7 separate regions of the Homo sapiens genome follow, and all the other regions are linked to region 1. Evidence: fine-mapped QTL for protein levels in blood plasma. A gene starts in region 1. Each other region holds a variant in brackets. All regions are shown on one strand. Distances are from middle to middle.

Region 1 (4,351 bases):
CTTATCAATATTTAAAAATATATATTATGTTTACATATAGGATATCAAATTCTTAAATGAGGTATTGGTGAGTGGTGGGATTATGGGCAATTATTTTCCTTCCTATTGTTTATTTATGTGAAGACAATGATAAACCTTGAAAGAAAAAAGTACCCACAATCTCACTTGATGATGAGTAATTTTGATTTATTTTTATTTTTGCATACTCGTGTTCTCAAACTTTTCATCAGTGAAAATTATATTACTTAAAGGATTGAAAAATCATTTCCAAAAGCCTCTAAAATTCTAGAGCTTGATTCACAAAGAGCCACTCGACCAACTTCACACACAGCAAGTCACTGGCAGGGCAAAAGCTTGGTTCCCCTTCTCAGCAGGGGACAGAATCCCTGGACACACTGGGAAGATATTCTGGGTGTTGCTGTCCCTTGTCCCTTGGCCAAGAGGTGGTCTGGGCATAGAAGACAAGAGTGGGCCGGGCGCGGTGGCTCACGCCTGTAATCCCAACAGTGGGTGGATCAGGAGGAGGTCAGGAGTTTGAGACCAGCCTGGCCAACATGTTGAAACCCCATCTCTACTAAAAATACAAAATATTAGCCGGGCATGGTGGCGGGCGCCTGTAATCCCAGCTACTTGGGAGGCTGAGGCAGGAGAATTGCTTGAACCCAGGAGGCAGAGGTTGCAGTGAGCCGAGATTGCACCACTGTACTCCAGCTCCGCCAACAGTGAGAGACCCTGTCTCAAAAAAAAAAAAAAAAAAAAAGAGTGGGTGGCGGGAAGGTGGCTGAAGGTAGGAGGGGGAACCTAAATGGGACATGGGAGGCATGGTTGGCACGAGCTCAGCCTGACCAGGGCCCAGAGAGGTAGACTGATTCAGTCAAAAGTCGTAGTACTTTTCCTGCTGAGATTGGTGGCCCTTTTGCTGGGCTTTCTCAAGCAAGAAATATCCTCTTCTGTTTCAGAATTATTCTGAATCATTAACCCAAGTCCTCCCAACTGCACTGATCCTGTCCCAGAGAGGCCCTGGGCTGCATCACCTAACTGATCACTAACCACAACCAGTTCTGCTCTCTCCTGGTTCCTGAAATCCAGGAGCAGATGGTGGTGGGGAGGAGGAGTTTGGAGACAGCCCTCTACCAGAAGCCAAGAAGAAAGGGGAGTGAGGAGGGATAGAGGAAGTTATCTTGGTCCTGCGCCCACAGTCCCCAGGGTCCTCCTTCCTGTGAAGCCCAACGGTCTCCAGCCAGATTTCCTGTCCCCTTAGCCCCACCAAGAACCAGAGGCTGCCCATTGGGTGGCTGTTGGATGCAGGTTACTGTTGGAGTGGGGGATGGCCACCTGAGGCCAATTGGGTCATCTTTACTCCAGGTCTCCCTTTCATCCTCCTGTCTTCCCTGGGGGCACTCTATTCCCTGCAATTCCTTGGGCTACCAGTTCCTGACTTTTGTTCCTTTCAAAGGAACCCTGGATAACCAGTGTAACCAGAATTTCAGAGGGGTTAGTTGTGTGTATCCCCTGGGGACAAGCACTGGTATAGGCACACAATGGTGAGCTGAGAAATCTTGGGCTGGTAGTGCTAAATTCAAAGGCTGGGGACAGGCTGGGGCCAGTGGCTCATGCCTGTAATCCCAGCACTTTGGGAGGCTGAGGCGGGTGGATCACTTGAGGTCAGGAGTTCAAGACCAGCCTGGCCAACATGGTGAAACCCTGTATCTACTAAAAATACAAAAATTAGCTTCTTGCCTAAGGAAAAATACAAAAATTACTTCTTGCCTAAGGAAATAATTGATGATGTGGCTAGAGGCTAGGGCGTGGTGGCGGGCACCTGTAATCCCAGCTACTCGGGAGGCTGAGGCAGAAGAATCGCTTGAACCATTGCACATCAGCCTGGGCAACAGAGCAAGATAACGTCTCAAAAAAAAAAAAAAAAAAGGCTGGGGACAATGCTGGCCCCTCCTTTCCTGCCCCTTCCCCCCATTTCAGGGGCCCCTCTGTGTGTACCTTCCAACCCCAGTGGGGGAGGAGAAAGAGTTCAGTCTCCAGGATCAGACCTTCCTCTACCTCACCCCACCCCCAGCTTAGAGGACATAAAAGCGCAGATTGAGCTAAGAGGAGCTGACAATATCAGGTGAGCTGTGGAGGTGGGGTCCTTGGAAGCTGGATGACAGCAGCTGGCAAGGGGATAAGAGAGCAGTGAGCCCCTCCCTCAAGGAGGTCTGGCTTTATCCATAGACAGGGCCCTCTGAGGTGGGGCTGAGGTACAAAGGGGGATTGAGCAGCCCAGGAGAAGAGAGATGGGGGTTCCCTTCTTCTCTTCTCTCAGATGCATGGTGGACTTAGGACCTTGCTGGGCTGGGGGTCTCACTGCAGAGATGAAGCTGCTTCTGGCCCTAGCAGGGCTCCTGGCCATTCTGGCCACGCCCCAGCCCTCTGAAGGTGCTGCTCCAGGTAACAGTTCCCAAGGTGGGAGAAGATGGTGTGTTGGGGTGGTTGTGTTCCAGAGACCCCTTTTCTCAGAGCAGGCCTTCCTAGCTCTGGGGCCTGATAGGGGGTTGGGGCCCATTCCTGACTTTGTGATCCCTGCTCTGGGCAGCTGTCCTGGGGGAGGTGGACACCTCGTTGGTGCTGAGCTCCATGGAGGAGGCCAAGCAGCTGGTGGACAAGGCCTACAAGGAGCGGCGGGAAAGGTGGGGCACGAGGCACTGCCCAGCTCTGGGCAAGGATGTCCCAGGCCTTTCAGAGAAGCAGCAGGCAGCAGGGAGCTTGAAGGTGGGAGAGGGGGACTATGGGGACCCATGTGGACTCCCTTTCTGTCTGTCTGTCCCTGTGTTTCTGGATGGGAGAACAGCTTAAAAGCCATCCTTCCCAAAGCCTTGCCTCTGTCTGGACACCCAGGTCCATATCCTTTTTATAAAAGGAAGCCTTCCTCCCACCCGTGGGCCTGCCTGCATGGTCCTGCATGTCTGCCCCTGGGCTGGGGCTCTGCTGGGTGGGTCTGTATCCCTTCTCTGGCCCTCACTCCTCCTTTCTCCAAGCAGCATCAAGCAGCGGCTTCGCAGCGGCTCAGCCAGCCCCATGGAACTCCTATCCTACTTCAAGCAGCCGGTGGCAGCCACCAGGACGGCGGTGAGGGCCGCTGACTACCTGCACGTGGCTCTAGACCTGCTGGAGAGGAAGCTGCGGTCCCTGTGGCGAAGGCCATTCAATGTCACTGGTACTGTTGCCCATCACACCCCAGGTCCCTGCTCCACTAGTGACTCCTCCTAGGGACCCCAGCCGTCTCTCAGTGATCCCCTCAACTTCTTCCTCCAGGGAGTCTCAGGAGTCTCCAGGGCTCCTCAGCCTCAGGTTGCCTGGGATAGGAAGTGAGGCGGCTCAGCTCCCCCATTGTTCTTTCCCCCGGCAGATGTGCTGACGCCCGCCCAGCTGAATGTGTTGTCCAAGTCAAGCGGCTGCGCCTACCAGGACGTGGGGGTGACTTGCCCGGAGCAGGACAAATACCGCACCATCACCGGGATGTGCAACAACAGGTGCGGCTGGCTGGGGGTGGCTGCAGGAACCGGGCTCAGAGAGGCGTCCCGGACGCCACAAGCCTCCCGGTGTCAGCGCCCTGTCCTCCCCTGCAGACGCAGCCCCACGCTGGGGGCCTCCAACCGTGCCTTTGTGCGCTGGCTGCCGGCGGAGTATGAGGACGGCTTCTCTCTTCCCTACGGCTGGACGCCCGGGGTCAAGCGCAACGGCTTCCCGGTGGCTCTGGTGAGCGCCGGCGGGCAGAGGGGGCGAGGCCCGGCCACGCGGTGCGCGGACCCAGGCGCCAGCTGATCTCCGTGTCCCGCAGGCTCGCGCGGTCTCCAACGAGATCGTGCGCTTCCCCACTGATCAGCTGACTCCGGACCAGGAGCGCTCACTCATGTTCATGCAATGGGGCCAGCTGTTGGACCACGACCTCGACTTCACCCCTGAGCCGGCCGCCCGGGCCTCCTTCGTCACTGGCGTCAACTGCGAGACCAGCTGCGTTCAGCAGCCGCCCTGCTTCCCGCTCAAGGTGGCCCTGCTTCCCGCCCACTGCCTGGGTTGGGAGAGGGGAGATTGTTTCTGGAAGGGGCCATCTCCCTTCTGTGCCCAGGTTTCCTTTCCCAGACGCTGAGGAAGGCTGGCCCTGCCTCCCTTGTGTCCACAGCACTGGCTGCTCAGCTATGACCTGTCTCCTTCCTGCGCCTGGGCTCAGCCAGCTGGCAGCCAGGGCCGTCCATTTGCTCACTGCCTCTGGCAGGCCAAGGGAGAGAGGGTTGTTCCTCCTTGGCTGACAGGAGTCCTGTTGGTGGAATCACTGGCTCTTTGTTAGGTTGGGAGA
Region 2 (3,436 bases), 29 kb before region 1:
AATGAGATAGGCCATGCAGAGGGCTTAGCACAGTACCTGGCGTAATGCTAGCTGCCACTGCTGTCAGTTAGCTGCCACTGCTGTCAGTGCATCCTCACGCTTGGCTGTCTCAGCCTCTGCTTCCCATCCTGTGCCCCCTCCACCCTGCAGATCATGGAGGTGGCCTCACCCACGGCAGGCAGTGTACTGGTGGAGTTGTCCCAGCTGCAGCTGCTGCAGGTGTGTCGTGAGGTGGTCGTGCGCACCATGTCGCCCCACGGGGAGTCGGCGGACTCCATCCCGGCTCCTATCACTCCCGCCCTGGCTCCGGCCAGCCTGCCAGCCCGAGTCTCCTGCCCCTCACCGCACCCAAGCCCAGAGGCCAGAGCGCCCCTTGCTTCAGCCTCCCCAGGGCCTGGAGACCCCAGCTCTCCTCTCCAGCACCCTGCTCCCCTTGGAACTCAAGAGCCTCCAGGAGCACCCCCTGCAAGCCCTTCCAGAGAGATGGCAAAAGGGTCCCACGAGGACCCTCCAGCACCTTGCTCCCAGGTACCCTGTCTGGGGAGAGGGGAGCAGGTGCAGGCTGGCAGAGGGACCTGGGCTTGGGTCCTTCCTCAGTGCTCTCTGTTCCAGGAGGAGGCTGGGGCAGCAGTGCTGGGCACCTCAGAGGAGAGGACAGCCAGCACATCTACCCTGGGTGAGAAGGACCCTGGCCCCGCAGCTCCCTCACTGGCCAAGCAGGAGGCCGAGTGGACTGCAGGAGAGGCCTGTCCGGCCTCCAGCTCCACCCAGGGAGCACGGGCCCAGCAGGCGCCAAATACCGAGATGTGCCAAGGAGGAGACCCAGGGTCTGGGCTGAGGCCCAGGGCTGAGGTAGGGGTTTGGGGACACACTGTGTCACTTCAGAGAATTGAGGCCTGTCTCCCTACCTTTTGCCAGCGCAAATCCAGTTGCCCTCTCTGCCTGTCCTCTGCTCTGGTCCTGCTCTCACACCTTTGGCTGTGCTATGTGTCTGTTTTTCTTCTAGGATTTCTCTGTCCCATGTGGCTCCCATCTCCCTTCTCCCACCCTGCCCCTGAGCCATGGTGTGCCTCCCCCATTTAGGACATGGCTCTTTCTCCCTCTGCCAAAGGACCCTTGTTACTGTGGCTGGGGCTGACCCTGCCTGGAACCCCCTGTGCCCCCTCACTGTCCTTATCTCTCCTGCCTTGCCTCACTTCTTGCAGAAGGAGGACACAGCAGAGCTTGGGGTTCATCTGGTGAACTCCCTCGTGGACCACGGCCGCAACTCAGACCTGTCAGACATCCAGGAGGAAGAGGAAGAGGAGGAGGAGGAGGAGGAAGAGGAGCTGGGTTCCAGGACTTGCTCCTTCCAGAAGCAGGTTGCTGGCAACAGCATCAGGGAGAATGGGGCCAAGGTAACGGGGTAGGGATGGGCTGTTGGGCCCCAGGCCTCAAACTCCGGGGCCTCCCCACTGTGTGTCAGCAGGTGCTCTGACCACCACTGAGTGCCAGAAACATTCTAGGTCTGTGGCCTGGGCCCTGTCCTAAGCAGAAGATAGGAAGTGCCCCAGGATTGGCCCCTGCCCTCCTGGAAAGAAAGGGGAAGGGGAGGAGTTCATTTCTGTACCTTCTCTCCCTCCAGCCCACCAGATACAGCGCCCTGGCCAGGGGAGGCCGGTGCCACCTAAGATCCTTGTGCTGGTAGCTTCTGGGGAGGGGATGGGGAGGCCTGCTCCTCAATGCTCCTGTCCCACAGGGGCTGGTGATGGTTCCTAGAGTGTGTTCCCTAATTCTTCCTTTGGCTCTCACTGGATATGTGTGTGAATTTGGGCCAGCCACCGTCCCTCTGGTTCTCTCCTCTCGGAGGAAGCCGTGGGAGGGCTGTGGGGTTGTCCGTAACCCCTGCCTTCGTTTGAGGGCAAAGATCGCAGCTCGCTCTCCTCTTCCCCACGCATCTCTCTTCCCTGCTGTGTTCTACTCCCACCTCCCCACCTCCACCAGTCCCAGCCCGACCCCTTTTGTGAGACTGACAGCGATGAGGAGATCTTGGAGCAGATCCTGGAGCTGCCCCTCCAGCAGTTCTGTAGCAAGAAGCTCTTTAGCATCCCGGAGGAGGAGGAAGAGGAAGAGGAGGA[C/AGAGGAGGAC]GAGGAGGAGGAGAAGTCAGGGGCAGGCTGTTCTTCCCGAGACCCTGGCCCGCCTGAACCTGCATTGCTGGGGCTGGGCTGTGACAGTGGTCAGCCCCGAAGACCTGGCCAGTGTCCCTTGTCTCCTGAGTCCTCCAGGGCTGGAGACTGCCTGGAAGACATGCCTGGATTAGTTGGTGGAAGCAGCCGGAGGAGAGGAGGGGGCTCCCCTGAGAAGCCCCCAAGCCGCAGGCGGCCTCCAGATCCCCGAGAACACTGCAGCCGACTTCTCAGCAACAATGGGCCCCAGGCCTCTGGACGACTGGGCCCCACACGGGAGAGGGGTGGCCTCCCCGTAATTGAGGGCCCCAGGACTGGACTAGAGGCTAGCGGGAGAGGCCGGCTGGGCCCTTCCCGGAGGTGCTCCCGTGGCCGGGCGCTGGAGCCTGGCCTGGCCAGCTGCCTTTCCCCCAAGTGCTTGGAAATCAGCATTGAATATGATTCGGAGGATGAGCAGGAGGCGGGCAGCGGGGGCATCAGCATCACCAGCTCCTGCTACCCTGGAGATGGGGAGGCCTGGGGCACAGCAACTGTAGGAAGGCCCAGGGGGCCTCCGAAGGCCAATTCAGGCCCCAAGCCCTACCCACGCCTCCCAGCCTGGGAGAAAGGGGAACCAGAGCGGAGAGGCCGCAGTGCGACGGGCAGAGCCAAGGAGCCACTCTCCCGGGTCCGTGCTCACTCCCCGCCCTGGGCAGCCCCTGCCTGCTGCCACCTGGTGGCCCTGCTTGCTGCCCACCAGCAGCTCCCATTCCACGCTGCCTGCCTCCATCAGCAGAGGTGGGGCCGGGCCTCCGGGCTCCCTCACCTGCCTCCTCCCACCCACATTCCACTGCTTTGCTGCTTCTGCTGATCAGGACTGGGATGCACAATATTCTATCACTAGTCGCCTGTTGCGGCCTGTGGGCAGGGTCGCCCTTTCCTCTGCATAGCTAGTAATGGCTTCAGGACGCTGACTGTGATGCCATGTCCAGGGTTACCTGCCCTGATGCTGACGGGAGGCCCTCCTCTCGCGGGCTCCTCAGCCAACTCCAGTCCCCTCTACTCCATTCATCTACTCGCAGGCTGGGGCTGGGGCCTCCCCTCCTGCCCTCCCTCCCACTGTGGGGGTGTCTGAGGTCTCCAGCAGGCTGGGCCGAGGCTCCGGGAGAGGAATGCTGTGCTCCTGCGCTGCTGTGCTGCTTACGCTGATGGGGCAGAGCTGGGGGAGCACGAGCCCACCAGAGGGATGGTGTGTTACTTTTGCCATCTGTTGCCCTCTTTTTGCAGGCAACAGAGACCGG
Region 3 (4,351 bases), 990 kb before region 1:
ACGCCTGTAATTCCAGCACTTTGGGAGGCCAAGGCAGGCAGATCACCTGAGGTCCGGAGTTCGAGATCAGCCTGGCCAACATGGCAAAACCCAGTCTCTACTAAAAATACAAAAATTAGCCAGGTATGGTGGTGCATGCCTATAATCCCAGCTACTTAGGAGGCTGAGGCATGAGAATTGCTTGAACCTGGGAGGTGGAGGTTGCAGTGAGTCAAGACTGCACCACTGCACTCCAGCCTGGGTGACAGAGTGAGACTCCATCTCAAAAAAAAAAAAGAAAAAAGTAAAAAAAGAAATATACATACATATATTTATATATATATACACACACACAAACACTGTCCCACCCCTCTGGCATCAGCTATTCTGTACATAAGAGGAATCTAGATCCAGAAATGCCAATGCTTTATTGCTAAGTGTAAGGAAGAGCTTAAGGTCCTCATTTGTGGATCAGTAAAGCAGCAGCATCAGAGTCAAGGGCCAAACTAAGTCAGTTAAAAGTTCTTGCCCTTTATATTTGTGTTAAACTGGTGAGCTATGCTGCTTCCAAAATGCATCATTCCAGAAACTTACTTGAATGCCTCGAGCAGTTAGGTGGTCAAACAAAGCTTTCCTCATTAGTAAGCTAGAAAAGAAAAAGCAAAACTGATTTAGGAATTTAGTCCTTAGTCCTAATTTAGTCAATTTAGAGTTTAGTAATTCCAGTTTAATTTAATCCCAATGCTTCAGCAATAAAAGAAATGGTCTCAAGTAATAATAGCTGTTGTGAATTAATTTATGTCTTAATTGCTGGATCTCCTTTCACTGCAGGCTGCTGGTTGGTGGACAACCAGAACCTCCTTTCTACTTCTTGCTGCTACCAGATTCATAGGAGACCCATTCTTGTTGGCACAGCTCAATGGAAAAGAGGCTGCCTCATTTTCACTGCTGAAGAAGGAGAAAGAGCTGGCTTTCCTTTCTTACTATTAATGTGTGTTCCTAACTTTCCAAGTTAAAATAAGTCAACAAATGCAGGTCAATTTCTATAACATCATAGTTCATTACACAATGGATTAGTCTTTTGTAAGCGATGTTAGAAGCATTATGTCCATTAATTACACTATCCTATGTCTAGGGAAAAAATATTTTTTTGTTCCAAGTAACTCACTGATAAGTGAACTTTCAAAATACAAACCTCTTGAGCAAGATAGGAATTCATTGCACTGGAAAGACATTATTTCTATTCTGTTATGTCTATTAGAATGATTAAATAACAGAAACTAGAAATCATGTGCTTTTAACACCAATTAACAATGCATCTTGTCAGTTAATAGGGTTGAAAAAAGAAAAAAAATGCATCCTGGTTTTACTTGAGTACAAAAAAAAGGCATCCTTGAAAACTAGAGCTTAAATCAAGAATAAAGCAAAAAAGAATAAACACTGACAGAGAGAAAAGATAAAACTAATTGTTTAAGACTCTTTGAAAAAGGCGTTAAGGCTGGGCGCGGTGGCTCACACCTGTAATCCCAGCACTTTGGGAGGCTGAGGTGGGCAGATCACATGAGGCCAGGAGTTCGAGATCAGCCTGGCCAACATGATGAAACCTCATCTCTACTAAAAAATACAAAAACTAACCAGGCATGGTGGGAGGCACCTATAGTTCCAGCTACTCGGGAGGCTGAGGCAGAAGAATCACTTGAACCCAGGAAGCGGTGAGCCGAGATCACACCACTGCACTCCAGCCTGGG[C/A]GACAGAGAAAGACTCCATCTCAAAAAATGAATAAATAAATAAATAAAATAAAATAAAATAAAATAAAATAAAATAAGAAGAAAAGGCGTTAAATAATAAAAAGTTGTGATTTGGGACTATTAAAATATTTAAGCATTCAAGGTTCCATCTTAAAGCAAAATATAGTACAATTATTTAGTGATTTTTACTAAAATTAAACTCATCATGTCTAAATTAAGGCATTTACTTTAAAGTTGATATCCACTCTATAGGTGGGATTTCCTTTCTGCTGTTAAGTCTTGGTGCAGAGCAAATTTTTCTGAGAAATGTGCTGTAGGCAACATACACTTTTATATATACTGTGTTGCTACACTTCTTTTCACCAGCAAGTAAGCTAAAGGGAATGGTTATTTAACCTAGTTCTGCTACTAACTAGCTAGATAACCCCAAGTAAATAATTTAACTGGGTATATGGGGGCTCAGTTTTCTCATGAAGTTGGAGGACATTATCTCTCAAGATTCTTCCTAAGATTTTGTGATTAGTAATTAAGATATTTCTAAATGATTCATACACATTTTACATAGCAGGTGCTCAATTTGTCCTTGTTACAAATTACATGTGGAAAGCTTGCACAACATTTTAAGGGTAGTATTTAATAAATATAGCTGAAGCAATAACTTGCATATTAAGAAATTAAAATTCTTACAGATCAGAAAGCCAGATGAGAAACTTTTGACTTCTGGACATGGTGTGTGGTTCTTTTAGCCTAGGGTAAAATAAAGTTTGAATTACAAATTAGAAACACAGAAATATATCAGTGTGATAAAATGAAACAAATTCAAAAATGAAAACAGTGCCTTGTACTTTGTATATTCTCAAAAAATATTTGTAAAAAGGACAAAAATAAAATAAAGGCCAGTTGGGTTCTGTTTGCACTGGTCTCAAGCTAACTTTTTGCCATCCCTATTCAAAAGTAATAAATAAATAAATAAATAAATAAATGCATACATAAATAAATAAATATTGTCTTTCCAGAGACCCTGGTGCCCTAGGCTCATATCTCGTTTCTTTTTTGGTGAAATCTTTCTCCTGCTTTGTCTCCTACAATTTAGTATGTGGCAAATTTAAACATACAACGGAACTGTATTATAGATCAAAGTGAGCAGTTTACCACGTGTTTTCCTTTCCTTTAAAATATCTGTAGGCCAGGCATGGTGGCTCATGTCTGTAATCCCAGCACTTTGGGAGGCTGAGGCTGGTGCATCACCTGAGTTCAGAAGTTCCAGACCAGCCTGGCCAACATAGTGAAACCCCCCCCCGTCTCTACTAAAAACATAAAAATTAGCCGGGCATGGTGGCGCACACCTGTAATCACAGCTACTCAGGAGCCGGAGACAGGAGAACTGCTTGAACCCAGGAGGCAGAGGTTGCAGTGAGCCAAGACTGCGCCACTGCACTCCAGCCTGGGTGACAAAGTAAAACTCTGTCTCAAAAAAAAAAAAAAGTACAAAATAAAGTACAAGTCCTTTTTTCCCTAACTCTGGCCCCAGTGGAAAGTCCTGGTTGCAATTTCAGGAATATTAGGGATTTAGTAGCTCAAATACTGATTACCTCATTAAACAATCACTATATTGTCTTAGAAAATATCCATTGTCTTCTATAGAAGTATTAAAACACACAAAATATATCCTGCTTGTGTCTTAATCCATAATCACTTTTTAGAGAAAATATTAATTCTGTGGAGTTTGTTCTTATGTCTGTATTTCAACAATATTTGCTTCTAAAAGGAACATATGAAGATAAATATAGAGCAAACAGTCCACTCCAGGCCAGAGGAAAGCTAAGTACTTTAGGAATAAATGTTTTATTTATTTATTTATTGGCAGAGTCTTGCTCTGTCACCCAGGCTGGAGTGCAATGGCGCTATCTCGGCTCACTGCAACCCCCACCTTCTGGGTTCAAGCGATTCTCCTGCCTCAGCCTCCTGAGTAGCTGGGATTACAGATGTGCGCCACCATGCCCAGCTAATTTTGTATTTTTAGTAGAGATGGGAGTTTCACCATGTTGGCCAGGCTGGTATGGAACTCCCGACCTCAGGTGATCCGCCTGCCTCTGCCTCCCAAAGTGCTGAGATTACAGGCAGGAGCCCCTGGCCCAGCCAGGAATAAATGTTTAGGGATCATTTTAATCTAGCAAATAAAATAGGGTGTTTTTTGGGGGGGGGGGTAGACAAGAAGCGTTTTCTATTGTTTTGTCTGAGAAACAGCTACAAAGATGTTCATAAATATAATTTAGGAATAAATAAAATAAACATGTTTATCACTAAGATACTGAAATTGGAAAACAGGCATGAAATAGAAGTTGAGCACAAGAGTACTGACTAAATTGTTTTTCTTTTCTTTTCTTTTTTGAGACAGAGTCTTGCTCTGTCGCCCAGGCTAGAGTGCAGCCATCTCGACTCACTGCAACCTCCACCTCTGGGGTTCAAGCGACTCTCTTGCCTCAGCCTCCCGAGTAACTGAGATTACAGGTGTCTGCCACTGTGCCCGGCTAATTTTTGTATTTTTAGTAGAGACGGGGTTTCACCATGTTGGCTAGGCTGGTGTTGAACTCCTGACTTTGTGATCCACCCGCCTCAGCCTC
Region 4 (4,000 bases), 120 kb before region 1:
CACTTTTGTGCGTGCTAGTATATCAAAAAGGTATTGTTATACATATATAAATATATGACATTTGAGAAACACTGTTGGTATTTTACTTCTGTAGAATAATTCAGATGAGACTAAAGGCCTTATAAGTCTACTTATTTTGCTATTTTAAAAAAAAAAAAAAGTATAGATTTCCATTCGTTTTTTCCCCCAAACCATTTTCTACAGTCTTTTGTATTATCTACTTTAAAACAACAAAAAACATCTTTTATATGATCTAGGCTTTGTGTTCCCTCATTTTAATATCTTCTACCTGGAATTATATTGATGATCTGACTTTAAAATTCTTGTGGTCAAGTTTCTTTAACTTCTGAAGGACTGTATTGGCTCTATATTGGAATTAAGTCCTATTCAGTTTTCCATTCTTAGAGTAAAATACAGTTTTGATGGAGGGGAGGGAAAAGTGGCAGAATATTCCATTTGTGAAATATAATCATCAAATTTCAAGCTAGAAAAAACAATCAGTCCAGTCTTCTCATTTTATATATGAAGAATTGAACTCAGATTAGTGCTTATCAAAGAATTCCAATCTGCTGCTATATCTTACTGGCCAATATTTTTAGCATAGTTTATTTATTTATTATAAACCTTTTGGGGTCACTGCAGGGAAATTAAAAAGCACATGTCAGCAGAGATTTCCCCCTGAACATTCCATTAAGAAGATATAGACTGCCGCAGGGTCTCTTTCCTCTTTGATCCCTAGTCAACTACAGGCATACTTTAAAATAAGTGAACAGACCAAAAATACCTCACCACAGTTTAGCAATACTTTACGTGGTGCATGTGTCATTTATTCTGCCACAGAATCACTGCACATCAGGTGGTCTGTAGTCCTGGATCTTCTCAGAGCAATATCACCTCTTTATAAAGTCTAGGCTAAGAATCTTACCAAGACTAGAAGGGGCACTGGATTCTCTAGATGCCTTATAATGTGGTTTTCCTATTTGTACCAAATTCTGTGACAGATACTATAGTAATTCAAAGAGCAACACAACACCTTAGCCTTGTCCAACTGAGGAGAATCAACTTAAACAGCAGGAGGCATTATGTATTGAATGCCAGATGTAGGTGTAGGCATAAATGCATTAGAGTGCTGATTTATTTATTTTCTCTTTTTCTTTCTTTCTTTCTTTCTTTCTTTCTTTCTTTCTTTCTTTCTTTCTTTCTTTCTTTCTTTCTGTCATTAGAGACAGGGTCTCTCTCTCTGTCACCTCTCTCTGTCACCCAGGCTGGAGTGCAGTGGCACCATCAGAGCTTACTATAACCTTGAACTCCTGGGCTCAAGCCATCCTCCCACTTCTGCCTCCCAAAGCTCTGGGATTACAGGCATGAGCTACCATTCCTGGCCTAAAGTGCTGATTTTCATTTTTTCAAGAGTCATTCAAATGACTGTGGTAATTCTGTCTCAGATTCCCTATGATTAAAGAAAAAACAAATGAAAAAATATTAAATTTTAACCCAGGCAACTTCAAGTAGCTTAAAGTTAGAGAAAGAAGTACTACAGTCCGGGTGCGGTGGCTCACGCCTGTAATCCCAGCACTTTGGGAGGCCGAGGCAGGTGGATCACGAGGTCAGGAGATCGAGACCATCCTGGCTAACATGGTGAAACCCCGTCTCTACTAAAAATACAAAAAATTAACTGGGCATGGCGGCATGCACCTGTAGTCCCAGCTACTCGGGAGGCTGAGGCAGGAGAATGGCATGAACCCGGGAGGTGGAGCTTGCAGTGAGCCGAGATGGTGCCACTGCACTCCAGCCTGGGCGACAGAGCAAGACTCTGTCTCAAAAAAAAAAAAAAAAAAAAAAAAAAAGAAGTACTACAACCCAGTCATACCTTCTAAATTTTTACTGTTATCAGTTAATTACAGGTTGTTATATTCCTGTGTGTTTAATACTCATCTTTAGCATTTTCTTTAGGAGTCTAGAATGACTAGATACCATGGCTTTTTTTTTTCAGATTGTAAACTGACTTTCTAAAATGTACCAATCAGTCCCTGTTAAATTTTAGTTAAAACAGTAAATTTAGCTTTAAACAGAATTCAACATATTGGAAGTTTTGTTTGAATTTATCTCAACTAGCTTGATTTTAATTCTTCGCAAACTGCATTCCATAAGGGAAGAAATAAATACTAAGACCTTTTATGTAGAAGGTGAAGAGTATTTGAATATCATATCTATTTAGCAAAAATTGTTTCTAGTACCATTTTCTTATTATTGACTTTAGTCATAAATGTGTGTTATTCCTGTTCCCTAAAATGTGTTGATTTTAGTATGATATGAGGCATATAGAGAACCATTTAAGAAGAATGTACCGATCCACTGTGACATTAGGTTATTTTACTCTAAAGTTAGTAAACTCTATGACATACATTAAACATTTAAAAATTATCATTGGTGAGTATTTGGGATTACTGAGTTGCCCCCTTGGGGTATATGAAAAGTCCCTAGGCACCTTATGATCATTTTAAGTAAAAGCAAGTCACTTAATCTTTCATCTGTTGGTGTAGAGTTGGGGGAGAACTAAATAATCTTTAAGATCCTTTCCAGCTCTAAACTTTTAGAGTTTATGCTTATTCTAGAAATAGATTTCATATATTAAAGGGACATGTATCTTGCCTATTTAGTTCTTTTTCTTTGTCCTTAGTTGTTGGACATCAAAGACAAAATTTGTTTGGTAGGTGATAGAAAAAAATCTGACTAAATTAATGTCTTACAATAAATAGGTAGCAGAACTAAGCATGAGACTCAGTTGTACTCCCAGTCTTCTGGTCCTGTACTGTCTTTGCATTCCAGTTAACACACTCAAAAAAGGAGCCTTTCTCTGGAGTTTCATATTTTAAAATATCTGTAGTAGATTGAGGACCCTTATTGTAAATGCTTCGTCAAGGTTGTCCCAATGATCAGAGCACACTGACTTCAATCACTAACCTGCACCTAAGTGAATCTAACCTTTGGAAAAACCTGAAAGAGCCAGAGACAACCTAGAACCAGTCTGGATGAAAGTAAAAGGAGTAGGATGCTTCTGATCCTAAGTACTCTGTGAAGTGAATTATTAGAGATAAGCTGAATACTTATACTAAAAATAAGATTTCAGAGCAGCTGGTGGGTGTTCACCCATGGGGTGAGGGGGATAGAGCTCTAGTATGTAAGCATCTGGAGGCAACTGGGAAGAGTGGAAATGGGGCCATCTGATTAGTAACTATGCCTTGTTATTAAACCGTGACTTTCTGCATTGTGTATTCCCAGAGTTGGAAAACTTCCGCTGGCAAAAAAAAAGAGAAGG[G/A]CCGCCGTGCTGTTGCTGAGGGCCATACAGTAGACACAAAAGCGCCTTCTTAGAGGCCTTCAGCAGAGGCAACTTGTACAGGCAGGCCTGTTCCTCTCAAAGACTGGGAATCAGATTCTTTCCCCAGGGGGTTTCCAACTAGTTTGCACTTCAGAAAAACCTTTTCTTTCTCCTGCTGTTCACGCCCTGCAAAGAATTTTCTTCCAACCAAAGAAATTGTTTTATAATCAAAGATCCTTGTCCTTAGTTGTTGGACATCAAAGAAAGTTTGGAGGAGACTGGGGGATTATGTGAGTGCCTAGAATTTATTTTGAATGCAAACTTGCAACATTAGCAAGTCCCCCAAAGAATATACTCATCTCAGAGCTGGGAGAGAGCCTAATATAACTAAGTCTCTATTCTTCCTTGGTTGGATGTGCCTCAGTAAGATACAAATGAGTTGAATTGCCTTATCTGGACTTAATTCATGTATGTTTGGTTCTTGAGGTACACGCTTACTGGAAGAGGTCCCCCAACCCATCTTCCCTTTTAAAACTGGTGTTTGGAAACATCAAACACTACTAATAAACTCGAAACAACAACCTACCCCCCCACCCCAAAAAAACTCCTTTTTTAAACCAATGTTTGACTCTTGGGAGTTTGGGGTTTCTCCCAGGACAGTTGATATCACCAAATGTTGGG
Region 5 (4,351 bases), 770 kb before region 1:
TTTTTTTTGAGAAGGAGTCTCGCTCTGTTGCCCAGGCTGGAGTGCAGTGGTGCAATCTCGGCTCACTGCAAGCTCCGCCTCCTGGGTTCACGCCATTCTCCTGCCTCAGCCTCCTGAGTAGCTGGGACTACAGGCGCCTGCCACCACACCGGGCTAATTTTTTTGTATTTTTAGTAGAGACAGGGTTTCACAGTGTTAGCCAGGATGGTCTCGATGTCCTGACCTCGTGATCTGCCCACCTCGGCCTCCCAAAGTGCTGGGATTACAGGCATGAGCCACCACGCCCTGCCACTTTATTTTTATTTTTTTTTATTTTGGAGACAGGTCGGACTCACTCTTGTTGCCAGGCACAATTTCCACTAACTGCAGCTTCAACTTCCCAAGCTCGGGTGATCTTCCCACCTTAGCCTCCCAGGTAGCTGGGACTACGAGCATGTGTCATGGCTAGTTTTTGTTTTTGTGGAGATGGGTTTCTCCATGTTGCCCAAGCTGGTCTTGAACTCCTGGGCTCAAGCAGTCTGCCTGCCTTGGCCTCCCAAAGTGCTGGGATTACAGGTGTGAGCCACTGTGCCTGGTCTGTAAATTTAGCTTAATTAAAATTAAAAATTTAGTTCCTTAGTTGCAGTAGCCACATTTCAAGTGCTTGCATTGGTTACTGCAAATCTAGAGCATTTCCATCATTGCATAAAGTTGTTTTGAACAGTGTGGCTGTAGTTTGAGGTAAGCTGTTTGTGTTTCTGTCAGTGACTTAGTTTCTCTTCCACAAGTTATCTTGGATTTAGAGGATTCTAGGCTATAGCACAATTAAAAGTTGTCCCATCTTGAACTCTTACTATTGTTGAATGAGCACTGGGGAAGATTAATTGATGAATTTTTATTTTACAGTGGTAAACTAAGGAATGTTTCATTTCCCTTAGGAAGTTAGGGTGTGGCAGGAGGTTTGGAGTGCTGAGAGTCGTTAATAGGTCAGGGAGGAAAATGTGAATAAATACATGCTTTCAGAGATTTTCATGTTAAATGTGCTATTTAAAACTGCCTGTATTCACTATACTGTTTGCTAATTGTATGTTTAGCTTAGGCTGGATATGAAAGAAGGAGGATGAGCATAAATGGGGCAGTTTATCTTTGTCATCAATTTTTTTTTATAAATAAAAGGCAGTAGGGATTCAGAGAAATGGTTTAAGAAATGGTGCCAAGTGAGGTGGCTCATTCCTGTAATCCCAGCATGTTGGGAGGCCGAGGCCAGAGGAACATTTGAGCCCAGGGGTTCAAAACCAGCTTGAGCAACATAGCAAGATACCGTCTCTAAAAATAAATAAAAATGAAATTAGCCAAGCATGGTGGCACACACCTCCAGTCCCAGCCACTTGAGAGGCTGAGGCAGTAGGATCGTTTGAGCCCAGTAGTTCAAGGCTTGCAGTGAGCTATGATGGCACCACTGCACTTCAGCCTGGGCAACAGAGTGAGACCATTCTCAAAAAATAAATAAAGCAATGGTTTTAGAAACATCTGGATGCATTTTTTTTTCACTTGAGACATCTTTTACTGTGCCAGTGAGCTGTGGCTAATATTTGTGCTTTTCTTGTTTTAAAAGAGACTTACTATTGAGCTGTCTCGAACTCAGAAGTCAAGAGATTTGTCACCACCAGATAACCATCTTAGCCCCCAAAATGATGATGCTCTGGAGACACGAGCTAAGAAGTCTGCATGCTCTGACATGCTTCTCGAAGGTGGTCCTACTACAGCTTCTGTAAGAGAGGCCAAAGAGGATGAAGAAGATGAGGAGAAGATTCAGAATGAAGATTATCATGTAATAATGAGGCCAGTTTTAGATTTTTGTGTTTGATTAAAAAAAAACAGTAGCATCATGGCTTTTAACATATTATGTGCTAAAACAGTAGGCTAAAAATATTGTCCATTGATTTCCATTAGTAATGTATGTATGCCCTTATGTAAATGTTAATAAGTCAGAAGTTGTTGAATCAAAGCATTTCAAGGTTGTGAAAAAAACAATACATTGTATAAAACAAACCGTGATACACATTTTAAAACCTAAACTACCATACATTGTGGATTTTAAAAATGTGTTCTGGCCGGGTGCGGTGGCTCACACCTGTAATCCCAGCACTTTGGGAGGCCAAGGTGGGTGGATCACATGAGGTCAGGAGTTCGAGACTATCCTGGCCAACATGGCCAAACCCTGTCTCTACGAAAAATACAAAAATTAGCTGGGTGTGGTGGTGCTTGCCTGTAATCCCAGCTACTTGGGAGGCTGAGGTAGGAGAATCACTTGAACCTAGGAGGCGGAGGTTGCAGTGAGCCAAGATTGTGCCACTGCACTCCAGCCTGGGAGACAGAGCAAGACTCTGTCTCAAAGAAAAAGAAAAAAAAAAGGTGTTCTATTTTCATTCACTGAAACTAGTACATGCCTTATCATTACTTACGTAGGTAGACTGATTTAGGATTCGGTAGCTAGCCAGGTTCTATCCCAGCTAAACAACAGTCAGAATCCAGAATAAGAGTTCAAGAAGTAGTTGATATTTTTACATAAGAAGGGATGCATAGACAGTTGGTTTTTTTGTAGTAATTTTTAAGATGAGAGACTTCAGTTTTAAGTTAAAATGAAGGACCCAGTGGGTCGAGA[G/C]AATGCACAGATTAAGTGCTTTGATAAACTAGAGATAATAGGGTTTGGAATGGAGCAGTCAGGTGAAGCAGTTAACCTTTGATAAACTGAGTTAAAGGAAGGGTGGAGTTTGCAGGTAAGGCAGCTGAAAAGTTGGGGAAGTTTTTGCTTAATAGTGGGTATTTTTTTTCTGTGCAGATAGGTGACAGTGTTAATTAATGACCTTGATAATGGTAAAATTAGGTAGAATTGAGGAGTGATGGTTTGAAACGTTACTCTGTGAGGAAGCTGATGTGGAATATGTGAAGGATTCCAGTCACACTGAGGGCCCAGCTGAAGGCGGCACGCATAAGTTAGTAAAATGATATCAGTCAGTGTGGTTGTGTGATTTTTCTCTACAGGGCTCAGCAGCTGAGGCACAGGAGCAGAAAATAGATTTTTGAAAACTGTATTATTCTTTGGTGCTTGGTTTATGGGCTGGATGGGGTGATCAACTGAGTAGAAACATTTGGAATAGACGTCTTGTTTTCTTGGCATTGATCTAGCACGAGCTTTCAGATGGAGATCTGGATCTGGATCTTGTTTATGAGGATGAAGTAAATCAGCTCGATGGCAGCAGTTCCTCTGCTAGTTCCACAGCAACAAGTAATACAGAAGAAAATGATATTGATGAAGAAACTATGTGAGTTTCCCACTTTACTACTGTAAAGCATTTAAGTGGTAATTATTAGAAGCATATTAACTAACTCACACTTAAATGTAGGGATATTCAGCACTTTTTTGAAAGATTGAATCAATAGTCAGTTTTCTCTCTCTAATCTCTGGGCTCTTAGCCAATAATTTTTGTTTGTGTTTTAACTTTTAAATTTGAATTTTGAAATTATTTTATACTTAAGAAAAGTTCAGAATTTCATGTTTCCTTCACACAGATTCATTCCCTATGAATATTTTGCTTTATATTTCTCTGTATATAATTTTTTCTGAAACACTTGAGATCGAATATACTTCTCATTGTGTACTTTTCTAAAAACAAGGATATTCTTACATAACTATAGAATAGTTATCAAAATCTGGAAATTAACATTGATGTAATACTGTAACCTTCTAAAAATTTGCCAGTAATGTCCTTTGTCAGGATCATGTTGCATTTAATTGTTAAATCGATTTAGTTATCTTCAATCTGGGTTACTTTTTTTTTTTTCCTTTTTTTTTGAGACGGAGTCTCGCTCTGTCGCCCAGGCTGGAGTGCAGTGGCATGATCTCAGCTCACTGCAAGCTCCACCTTCCGGATTACGCCATTCTCCTGCCTCAGCCTCCCGAGCAGCTAGAACTACAGGCGCCCGCCACCTCGCCCAGCTAATTTTTTGTATTTTTAGTAGAGACGGGGTTTCACCGTGTTAGCCAGGTTGGTCTTGATCTCCTGACCTCATGATCCGTCCACCTCGGCCTCCCAAAGTGTTGGGATTACAGGCGTGAGCCACCGCACCTGGCCAATCTGGGTTACTTTTTTAAAAATTTGTTTTTCGGCTGGGCACGGTGGCTCACGCCTGTAATCCCAGCACTCTGGGAGGCTGAGGCGGGTGGATCACGAGGTCAGGAGATCCAGACCATCCTGGCTAACACGGTGAAACCCCGTCTCTACTAAAAATACAAAAAAGAAATTAGCCAGGTGTGGTGGCAGGCGCCTGTAGTCCCAGCTACTTGGTAGGCTGAGGCAGGAGAATGGGG
Region 6 (4,351 bases), 9.8 kb after region 1:
ACAGTGGGGTGGGGATGGCCCTCAGAGGGAACTGGCTACTTCCTATGTGTTGTGGCTCGCTGTGACCCAGGAAGCCAGGGCCTGGGAGCATCCCAATCTTGCAAGTCTGAATGGCATAATCTCCTGAGACCTATATGTCCCTGGGGTCATGTAGTGACCGGTGAGGACCTGCTCACTGGGGCCACCACCTTGGCACCAGGCACTGCTTGTGCCCAGCCCTCTTCTCGAATCCTCCTGACCCTACCTGGACTTGTCCCTGACTCCAATCTGAGCTCTGATACTGAGCCAGATACTTCCCCTGACCTGGCTCCTCTGGTCCCCAGGTGGCATTGACCCCATCCTCCGGGGCCTCATGGCCACCCCTGCCAAGCTGAATCGTCAGAACCAAATTGCAGTGGATGAGATCCGGGAGCGATTGTTTGAGCAGGTCATGAGGATTGGGCTGGACCTGCCTGCTCTGAACATGCAGCGCAGCAGGGACCACGGCCTCCCAGGTGAGGGGCTGCAGGAGTCTCCCCTGATGCTCACCTCCCCTGAGCTGCCTCCTAGGTAGCCCATCACCCCCCTTCCCACTCTAGGGTCCCTGCCCTCTCCAAAGCATATTAGAGGCACTTTGCTCTCAGGAAGTAGCCTGAGGCCAGGCCCCTGCCTTTTCCCGGACCCACCTGATAAATTTCCAGCTCCTCTCAACCTCCTTTGCATGCTGTAATTCTCATATTAGGGGCATCGTCATCATAATGATAACCCACAGTCTGAAAATCTGTCTCTGTCATCATTCCATTTTGCTTCATTGTACGTTAACTCTGGGGGAAGAGATTATTATTGCCTTCATTTTACTGATGAGGAAACTGAGGCTTGATGAGATTCAGAACCTGGCCAGGTTCTCTAGCCAAGTCAGTGGCAAAGCTGAAATTTGAAGCCAGATTAGCCTAACCTCAAAGCCTGTGCCTATGTTATGGGGTAGCCCATGTGGCTGAGGCTTCTAGACACATTTCACCTCTCATGGGTCAGAGACAGACACATCGGGCTGCTCTGGAGGGGGACAAGGAGATGTCCCTATTCTTGGACCCAGCAGGAACTGTGGCAGTTTAGGGTTTGCCTTATGGTAGGAGGGCAAGAGAAAGACAGAGAGGGTCCCAGAGAGGCCCAGTTGTGCCCCTTGGTCTAAGCCAAAGGTACAGGGTTCCTTGAGGTGAGGTCCTTCCCTCCCTCTATGACCTTGGTTGTGTTGGGAAGGTGGGTTTTCTGGGCTGCTGGCGATATGTGAATCTTCCCTGCTGTCTCCAGTGACCTCCCCACCTTGAAGCAGAGAGACCTGCCCATAGCCACCTGTCCCCTCCCCCATGCAGGATACAATGCCTGGAGGCGCTTCTGTGGGCTCCCGCAGCCTGAAACTGTGGGCCAGCTGGGCACGGTGCTGAGGAACCTGAAATTGGCGAGGAAACTGATGGAGCAGTATGGCACGCCCAACAACATCGACATCTGGATGGGCGGCGTGTCCGAGCCTCTGAAGCGCAAAGGCCGCGTGGGCCCACTCCTCGCCTGCATCATCGGTACCCAGTTCAGGAAGCTCCGGGATGGTGATCGGTGAGGAGGGGCAGGCGTCGTGGGCCGCTGGGTGGCTGTGGGCCCATCCTTGACTCTCTTGGAGCCCAAATTTCCTCCTGTCAGTTGAAGGACTGGAGGGAGTCAGTAATTTTCCAGTGTGTTCCAGGAATCCTCCAGATGCCCTGGAGTGCCCCTAATGTGCCCTGAACCTGTTGGGGGTGCAGCAAGGAAAGACCTGGACCCCTGGTTGTAAAGGGTGGAAGATAGAAAAGTGCCACCCTTAGCTACTTCTTCCCATGGGTTTCACTGTGCCACCATGTGGGTGTCAGTCACCAGTGGGCAGTCCCCTCCCAGCTTTCCCACAGCTCCCCTTAGTGTCATTTCCTCGTGGTCCTGATGTCTTCATGTCTAGTTCTTGCTTAGCCTGTACTGCACCTTTGGGAAAATTAGAAAAAGGTGCCCCTCTCTGGGTGGGCGAATTATAAACCACCCCCAAGATTCTCTTCCACTCCTGTGGATGCAGCTCCTGGCCAGGGCACAGGGCTTCAGGAGTGTGTGTGGGCCCGGGTCCCCCTCCAGCATGGTGCCCTGGAGGCCGCCGGGCTAGGGGTAAGGGAAAGGCCACTGGGCAGCTGTGCTTTACTCTGCACGATGAGTGGAGCATCACTTGTGTGAAAGCCCCTGGGCTGCCCAAGGGCCTGGGGCCCTCCTGTGCTTCCAGGTGGCATTTGTTGTGGCTTTGTTATATCCTGGGAGCAGCACAAGCCCATCGATGCCCTGCCAGCCCAGAATATCCTTGGGCACAGTGTCCATGGGTGTTCCCCATGC[A/C]GGTTTTGGTGGGAGAACGAGGGTGTGTTCAGCATGCAGCAGCGACAGGCCCTGGCCCAGATCTCATTGCCCCGGATCATCTGCGACAACACAGGCATCACCACCGTGTCTAAGAACAACATCTTCATGTCCAACTCATATCCCCGGGACTTTGTCAACTGCAGTACACTTCCTGCATTGAACCTGGCTTCCTGGAGGGAAGCCTCCTAGAGGCCAGGTAAGGGGGTGCAGCAGTGAGGGGTATATCTGGGCTGGCCAGTTGGAACCACGGAGATCTCCTTGCCCTAGATGAGCCCAGCCCTGTTCTGGGTGCAGCTGAGAAAATGAGTGACTAGACGTTCATTTGTGTGCTCATGTATGTGCGAAGTATATAAATTGGCTTTTCATGCGTGTGTGTTGTCTGAACATGGGGAGTGTTTCATGGGTTATGTGTATGTGCCATTTATGTGAGTGTGTGTTTGTGCTGATGAGAATACTGAGTATGTGGAAGGCAGCAGAGCGGACTGGTGAGGAGCACAGCTCAGGAACTAGACTGCCTGGGTTCCAATCCTGGCTCTGTGGCTTGCTAGCTATGTGACCTTGAGCAAATTACCCTCCTTAAACAAGAGTTTTCTTCCTTGTAAATTACATCTGTCATGGTTTCTTGGAGGGCCCACTTGTATCCTCTGGTTCTTCATTTATTGAGCACCTACTACATGCAAGGCACTGTACTAGGCGTGAGAAGCATATAGAGGCAAGAAAGAGATACCAAGATGCCATCTGTGTCCTGGTTAGCAGAGCTGGACCAGTGGTGCCTTGGAGGGATAAGCCAGCTGCAGCTGGGCTGTGTGGTTGACTTATGGGCCCAGCCAGCCAGGCTCAGGCCATGGCTCCCCTTTTTCTTCCTCACCCTGATTTCTTGCTTATTCACTGAAGTTCTCCTGAAGAGGAACTGGGCCTGTTGCCCTTTCTGTACCATTTATTTGCTCCCAATGTTTATGATAATAAAGGCACCGCTGATGGGGACCTCCACTCTGTCTGTGTCTGAGGAGGAACTGGCGCTTTTGCAGAGGCTTACTCTGGGCTCTGAGCTTGAACCAGTGTGGTCTGTGCTCAGGGCCCTGTGTTTCTGAACCGAGGGTGAGGATGTTGGGGAGTTTTCCTTTGAGATCCGTACGTGGAGGGCAGCCATCTCTTGGAAGCCTGGGGGCCGGGGCATGCGGTGCAGACCCTCCTCCCTCACCTTCCACCCCTGCCACCCTGCAGGGAACTGTGGTCACCAAGCCCTCATGTTTGTTCATTGCTCTAGCAAACGTTTGCTATGTGTTCACTCTGTGTCAGGCCTGTGCCAGGGGCTAGGAAGTGGAGGGGACAAAATGCTGTGTGGTAGGAGAGAAAGTACAGAGACCTGGTGAGGAGGCAGGCCCTTCCCCAACAAGAGGGGCCTCTGCATCCTGCATCCCAGCAGCCTGGCACAGGGGTTCAGAGGCCCTCAAGACAGTGGACTCCTTCTCATTCATGTTGCACATGGCTCCTGGAGAAGGGAGAGCAGATGGCTGGGCCCAGAGGACAGGGCCAGCACTGAGGGAGGGGAAGGAGTGTATTTCCCTAGTAGTCTTGCCTGGAGCTTGAACCCTGCGTCTGACTGGTGGACTCCCTCCCTCTCCTCTTCCTTCTCAAATATGGGGAGGGGGCTGGAAGTGGTGTAGGACGGTGGGGTCTAATGTACTCATGGGGCCCCTGGTAACGTTAGGACCTCACCATGGTAAGAAGCAGCAAAAATACTGCTTGTCCTCATTTCTGTGATGAGGAGAGGGCTGCTCAGAGGGGTGAAGCGACTCGTCTGAGGCCTTAAAGAAGTGGGTGGCAGTGCCAGGCTGCAGCCGAGGTCATCTGGCTCCTGGGCTCTTCCCACAGGATGACTGGGTGTCTCCCACTCCCACCCCACCAGTTGGGGGATCTGGAGGCCCTGGTTGGGCTAATCTTTCCCAGGGGG
Region 7 (4,351 bases), 1.3 Mb before region 1:
GGGAAGGCAAGAGAAAAGCCACCGCCTCACCACCACCCCCAACCCCCACCACCGGAGAAGGTGCCTTTCTCAGTTGAGAGCCGCAGAGGGAGGGAAAAAAAAGGTTGCTCCTCCCCAACCCACCCGCCCCACAACTCCTGGGTGCAGACACGATGAGGGAAAGAGGAGAGCAATGGAAGGTGACAGCCCCGCACTGGCCCAGGGGATAAGAATCCTTGCTCTGGTAGAAACAAGGGAGAATCCCCCTCCCACTCCCCTACCCAAATGAATGAAATGAATAAAATGGGGAGAGAGTTTGTACGCGCAGTTCTGGCCATCCAGGAAGCAAGATCGAGAGGCCTTTGGATCCAGGCCTGGTCCTTGCAGCTCTTTGCACCCCAACTCCTGTCCTTTCCATCCAAGCCCCACATCATTTAATATTTTAAGCTTTCCAAGATAGTGCCCCCTCCTCCACCTACCCCAATCACCGACAACCCCCCCGCCCCTCCAGCTCCGATACTGCTCGGGCCCAGACTCCAGCGTCTTCCATCCTTCCTACCACCTTCTCCACAGCCCTCACCAGCCCGGGCCCGGCCGCACCTGGAGATGCTCCTGAAAACGAATTGGCAGAATCTGGGCCATGGCGCTGTCGGGGGTTATGGTCTCCTCCTGTCACTGGGGCTGCGGGGCAGTGGCTGCCCGGGCTCTCCAAGGGAGAGGAGGAGAAGGGGAGGGGGGAGGCTGGGCTCAGCAGGATCCTCTCCGGGGACGCAGGAAACTGGCAGGCAGACGAAAGAGCTCGGGTCGGGGGCGGAGGCTCCAGGGGCCAGGAGAGCCGCAATGGCGGAACCGGGCGCAGCGCAGACTCCGGAAACGGCTGAGCCCAGCGGAAGGATCCCGGCGACAGAACTCCGCCCAGTCGCCTCACCCCCTCCGCCTTATGTACCCCTCCACGGAGCGCCGCGCGCGGCGGGCGCAGGAATTCGGGGCGCAGTGCGCCCGGTGCCTCGCTTCCTGACGCCACATGGGGGGAAACAGAGGAACCGGAGGGACTACTTTTTTAGACTCATCACTTTCGCCAGTCTTCTCTTTCTCCCCCCACTTTTTTTTTTTCATTTTGCCACATCATGCGACTCGGGGCGACCGACGTCACTTCCGTGGGCGCTTTAGGTCCCACCCACGTACTTCCAGGTGCACGTGATACTGATGGGGAAGGGTCGGCTGATTGCTGCCAGAAATGGAGAGCTCGTTTTAAGGAAATGCGGCGTCTCCTGGGAGTGAAGAGGCTTTTGGGCCACCTTGAGGCATGACGGGTGCCGCTTCGTTTCCCTGCGACCGCTGCCTGTTTCGACTGAGCCCCTCACAGGAGGACGTGGCGGGGGCAGACGGGCGCAGCCTCCCGCCCTCTCCGTGACTCAGGGAAACGGCCTCGCCGCAGAGCGCTCCCTCGGCAGCTGGCTGCAGCACTCCTCCCCCGCCGGGCTTCAGAGTGGGTGGTTTCCTACAGCCTAGGGAGGGGGCCTGAAACGGGGTTTAAAATCTTCCCTGCCCTCACACAAGCCCTTCTGACTGTTGGAGAACCTGACGCGCGGATTCTAACTAGAACTGGCACTCTCTTCGGGTGTTAGATAATTAACTCAAAGGACAGCGAAGGCCTTTTATGATGTCTTTCAAGCTGGCCTTATGACAGCTTTTCTTAACGTTTCTGCGGACATTTTGGCGGACTTGTGTCGGCCTAGCTCAGTGATCAGTTTCGTTAAAGAATTTGAGTATCCGAACATTAAAGGATTGGACCTAAATTCTAGCAGGAGGATTTTTAGCCACATCAAATAATTTACGTCTCAAAGATTTAGATAATTAGGGTAAGGATGCTTAGTAAAACCCGAAGGTTCCATCGCGCCACTGCACTCCAACCTGGGCGACAGAGCGAGACTCCGTCTCAAAAAAAAAACAAACAAAAAAAAACCTGAAGGTTCCTGGAGGAAAGAGATGAACTATTAGCCGTGTATTTCGGTGGGACCACCTCAACATAGGTTCCTGTAGGTTAGCAATGTAGAAATGTAGCGCTTCAAAGCCGGAGCATCCTGTCTTCAAAGAGCATGAAGGTATCAACGGCATTCATTGTCGATTAATAATAACCTTTCTGGTACTTTCTTGCTAAAGTATAAGCCATAATAATATTTCATAATCGCAC[C/T]AATACAATAAAGGATGAAAGACGTTAGTTCTGTGCCTTTTATCTTTGTAAGAGAGGTGATTCTCCCCCCCCACCCCCCGCCCCGCCGAAAGAGAAAAGCTCAAGTCCACAATAATTATTTTTAGTGTCCTTTTCAGTTAAAGGACATAAAACCCTATTGGGTAGACGATAGTTTTGTATGCTAAGCAGTTTAGGTTACAGTGAGAAGTTTGCCAATCATTTTAGTTGCTTTTAGTGTTTTTCCCTTTACTTAACTGTCTCACATACTGAGCATGAGAGAAGAGTCTGGCAGGTAAGAGGGCAAAGATTGTTCTGCAAAGAAAAGCCTTGCCACCATGTTGTAAGAGTGAATATTTATGCTTGCAAAATTTCTTTTTGTATTGTTAAGCTAAATACACGAAGATCCTCTGTTCCGCAACATTTGAAATAACCTAATGCCAGTCTAGTAATAACTGCTTTAAACCCTTTTTGGAAGTAGACAAATTCTAAATTAAAATTCTAAGGGAGTAATTGTTTTATTACAGTAATTCAATAGCTTGATCAAGTCACCTTTTCAATCTCAGAATCCGGAGATAAAAGAGCCGTATCATGAATGGGCCACCAAAATTTAATTAGTGTCTGGCATTTTCATACAGACCCTGTAACTTTAAGTACATTTAGAATCCCAAAAGCAGTTGATTTTAGCTATTTGGAGTGGAATATCTAACCAAAAAGTGCGCTGAGGTTGTTAGTGACTGCTACGTCATCACACATAGAAATTACACTGTTTTGAGAAATAATTTAGGAAGAGGAAAAATAGATCGTGATATCCTGGGTCATTTTGAAATGATCTTCAAATTAATCCAAAAATTTTCAAGAGAAAAAAAAAGTCAAGATGATAAACATTAAAAAAAAACCCTATGCCTTTTTAAAGATGAATAATTTGAGTAGGGTAATAAGAGTTTTTTTTTTTTTTTAATGGGAGTCTGCTGTTCTTGGTAACAGTATAAAGGCAGTTTCACTGGTTTCACTGGTTTAGTTACCTAAGCAATACCTGAATGGCACTGTTTTCAGACATTACCTCAAGTTAGAAGGGAGAACAGATAACCTAATAGACCAGGAAGCAAATCCTACTACCCAGAATGGCTTTTTCTACGATACAGTATGACATAGTCTTTTAATAAGACAATGCTATGAATGATCACTCTAGCTTTTGGTTTCAGAAAATGTTTTAGCAAGGTAGCCATGTTAATCAATGGTGAAGTGAAAGCTATTTTAGTTGGAATGCTCATCAACAGTAGACTATCATGAGTCACAGCAAGTGCCATTAGCAAAAACTACATTGCTTGGTCTGTTATTTTGAGGACTGCTAGTTTCTGAAAACCTATACAAGAAACCTGTGTTGTGTCACTAATTTTAATGTTATGCCAACAATTAGGATGGAGATATATACATATATATATATATATATATATATATATATATAAACACTCAATAGAATGACACCTCAAAACACAAACAAAAAACAAAAAAAAAAACAACCCCTTTCACTGTAGGATTTCTCCATTAGCTGTTCATCTTCAAGCAGCCCTAGCACTAATGCCCCTGCCTTTTAAAAACTTGACCTTTTAAAAACAGCCTGAATTCACTGCACTGCAAAAGTCACAAAGAAAAGGCATATCTCACATACTCAGAAATTAATTTTAAAGCAGAACTTTAATCCACTGTACCAAATGTTTACAATTCAGATTCCAATAAAGCCATAAAGGACATACTTTAGTATTATCCAAGTAAGATACTTGGTTTTGCCATTTAAACAGTAGCTTTGAAGCATCTCAACCCCCTGGGGCCACTGATATGAATCCCAGCAGGATTAGACTGGCTAGGTCTTTATTTTTTCATGCAAGATAAGGAGCAGCCTATCAAATGCCAGTAAACAAATGTACAAGTCACTGACTATCGGCAAGGCTCCCCGCTCCAAAATGAAGAAAAGAAAGCAGCATTTACAAAGCAAGAACAATTTTTTTTTTTTGAGACGGAGTCTTGCTCTTGTCGCCCAGGCCAGACTGCAATGGTGTGATCTCGGCCCACCACAACCTCCGCCTCCTGGGTTCAGGCAATTCTCCTGCCTCAGCCTCCCGAGGAGCTGGGATTACAGGCACCAGCCACCATGCCTGGCTTATTTTTGTATTTTTAGTA

Which allele goes with the higher level. Alleles are on the strand shown, and positions count from the first base shown. The strength of an association depends on the size of the effect and on how common the allele is. Not every link is listed here.
For the plasma level of the protein whose gene starts at base 2,115 in region 1, allele C in region 3 goes with a higher level than allele A (moderate association).
As copies of G replace A in region 4, the plasma level of the protein whose gene starts at base 2,115 in region 1 goes up (moderate association).
In carriers of allele G in region 5, the plasma level of the protein whose gene starts at base 2,115 in region 1 tends to be higher than with C alone (moderate association).
In carriers of allele C in region 7, the plasma level of the protein whose gene starts at base 2,115 in region 1 tends to be higher than with T alone (moderate association).

What was found. PIP is the posterior inclusion probability: the model's chance that the variant is causal. The UK Biobank Pharma Proteomics Project read protein levels with antibody pairs (Olink). The fine-mapping took linkage between variants from a reference panel, not from the people measured, so its PIPs are less certain.
Region 2: its variant is fine-mapped to the plasma level of the MPO protein (UK Biobank, PIP above 0.99).
Region 3: its variant is fine-mapped to the plasma level of the MPO protein (UK Biobank, PIP above 0.99).
Region 4: its variant is fine-mapped to the plasma level of the MPO protein (UK Biobank, PIP above 0.99).
Region 5: its variant is fine-mapped to the plasma level of the MPO protein (UK Biobank, PIP above 0.99).
Region 6: its variant is fine-mapped to the plasma level of the MPO protein (UK Biobank, PIP above 0.99).
Region 7: its variant is fine-mapped to the plasma level of the MPO protein (UK Biobank, PIP above 0.99).

The regions. Positions count from the first base shown.
Region 1 is chr17:58,278,699-58,283,049 of GRCh38, reverse strand. It overlaps MPO (myeloperoxidase), which reads left to right and starts at 2,115. Exons shown (of 12, transcript NM_000250.2): 1 at 2,115-2,445; 2 at 2,591-2,684; 3 at 3,036-3,211; 4 at 3,404-3,527; 5 at 3,624-3,753; 6 at 3,836-4,042. The coding sequence starts at 2,292. RefSeq lists promoters at 835-1,035, 1,081-1,306, 1,191-1,592, 1,985-2,125, 1,531-2,125 and enhancers at 1,165-1,182, 3,767-4,351.
Region 2 is chr17:58,307,928-58,311,363 of GRCh38, reverse strand. TSPOAP1 (TSPO associated protein 1) reads left to right here. Exons shown (of 32, transcript NM_004758.4): 19 at 151-528; 20 at 613-852; 21 at 1,206-1,397; 22 at 1,984-2,823; 23 at 3,423-3,436. Among named protein-coding and RNA genes, the nearest start is that of TSPOAP1-AS1, 16 kb to the left of the region's middle. RefSeq lists an enhancer at 1,130-1,829. The variant C/AGAGGAGGAC (reference allele first, on the strand shown) is at 2,118.
Region 3 is chr17:59,269,059-59,273,409 of GRCh38, reverse strand. It overlaps GDPD1 (glycerophosphodiester phosphodiesterase domain containing 1), which reads right to left. Exons shown (of 10, transcript NM_182569.4): 8 at 2,415-2,474; 9 at 574-625. Among named protein-coding and RNA genes, the nearest start is that of GDPD1, 51 kb to the right of the region's middle. The variant C/A (reference allele first, on the strand shown) is at 1,728.
Region 4 is chr17:58,402,916-58,406,915 of GRCh38, reverse strand. All of the region lies in intron 2 of RNF43 (ring finger protein 43), which reads left to right. Among named protein-coding and RNA genes, the nearest start is that of RNF43, 13 kb to the left of the region's middle. The variant G/A (reference allele first, on the strand shown) is at 3,320.
Region 5 is chr17:59,046,637-59,050,987 of GRCh38, reverse strand. It overlaps TRIM37 (tripartite motif containing 37), which reads left to right. Exons shown (of 24, transcript NM_015294.6): 15 at 1,595-1,810; 16 at 3,169-3,305. Among named protein-coding and RNA genes, the nearest start is that of TRIM37, 58 kb to the left of the region's middle. The variant G/C (reference allele first, on the strand shown) is at 2,645.
Region 6 is chr17:58,268,891-58,273,241 of GRCh38, reverse strand. It overlaps MPO (myeloperoxidase), which reads left to right. Exons shown (of 12, transcript NM_000250.2): 10 at 324-494; 11 at 1,350-1,587; 12 at 2,379-3,387. The coding sequence ends at 2,586. Among named protein-coding and RNA genes, the nearest start is that of MPO, 9.9 kb to the left of the region's middle. RefSeq lists enhancers at 143-178, 1-381, 1-508, 1-987. The variant A/C (reference allele first, on the strand shown) is at 2,377.
Region 7 is chr17:59,616,402-59,620,752 of GRCh38, reverse strand. It overlaps CLTC (clathrin heavy chain), which reads right to left and starts at 858. Exons shown (of 32, transcript NM_004859.4): 1 at 580-858. The coding sequence starts at 621. RefSeq lists enhancers at 771-1,065, 795-1,144, 1,595-1,714, 1,725-1,774, 1,612-2,424. The variant C/T (reference allele first, on the strand shown) is at 2,174.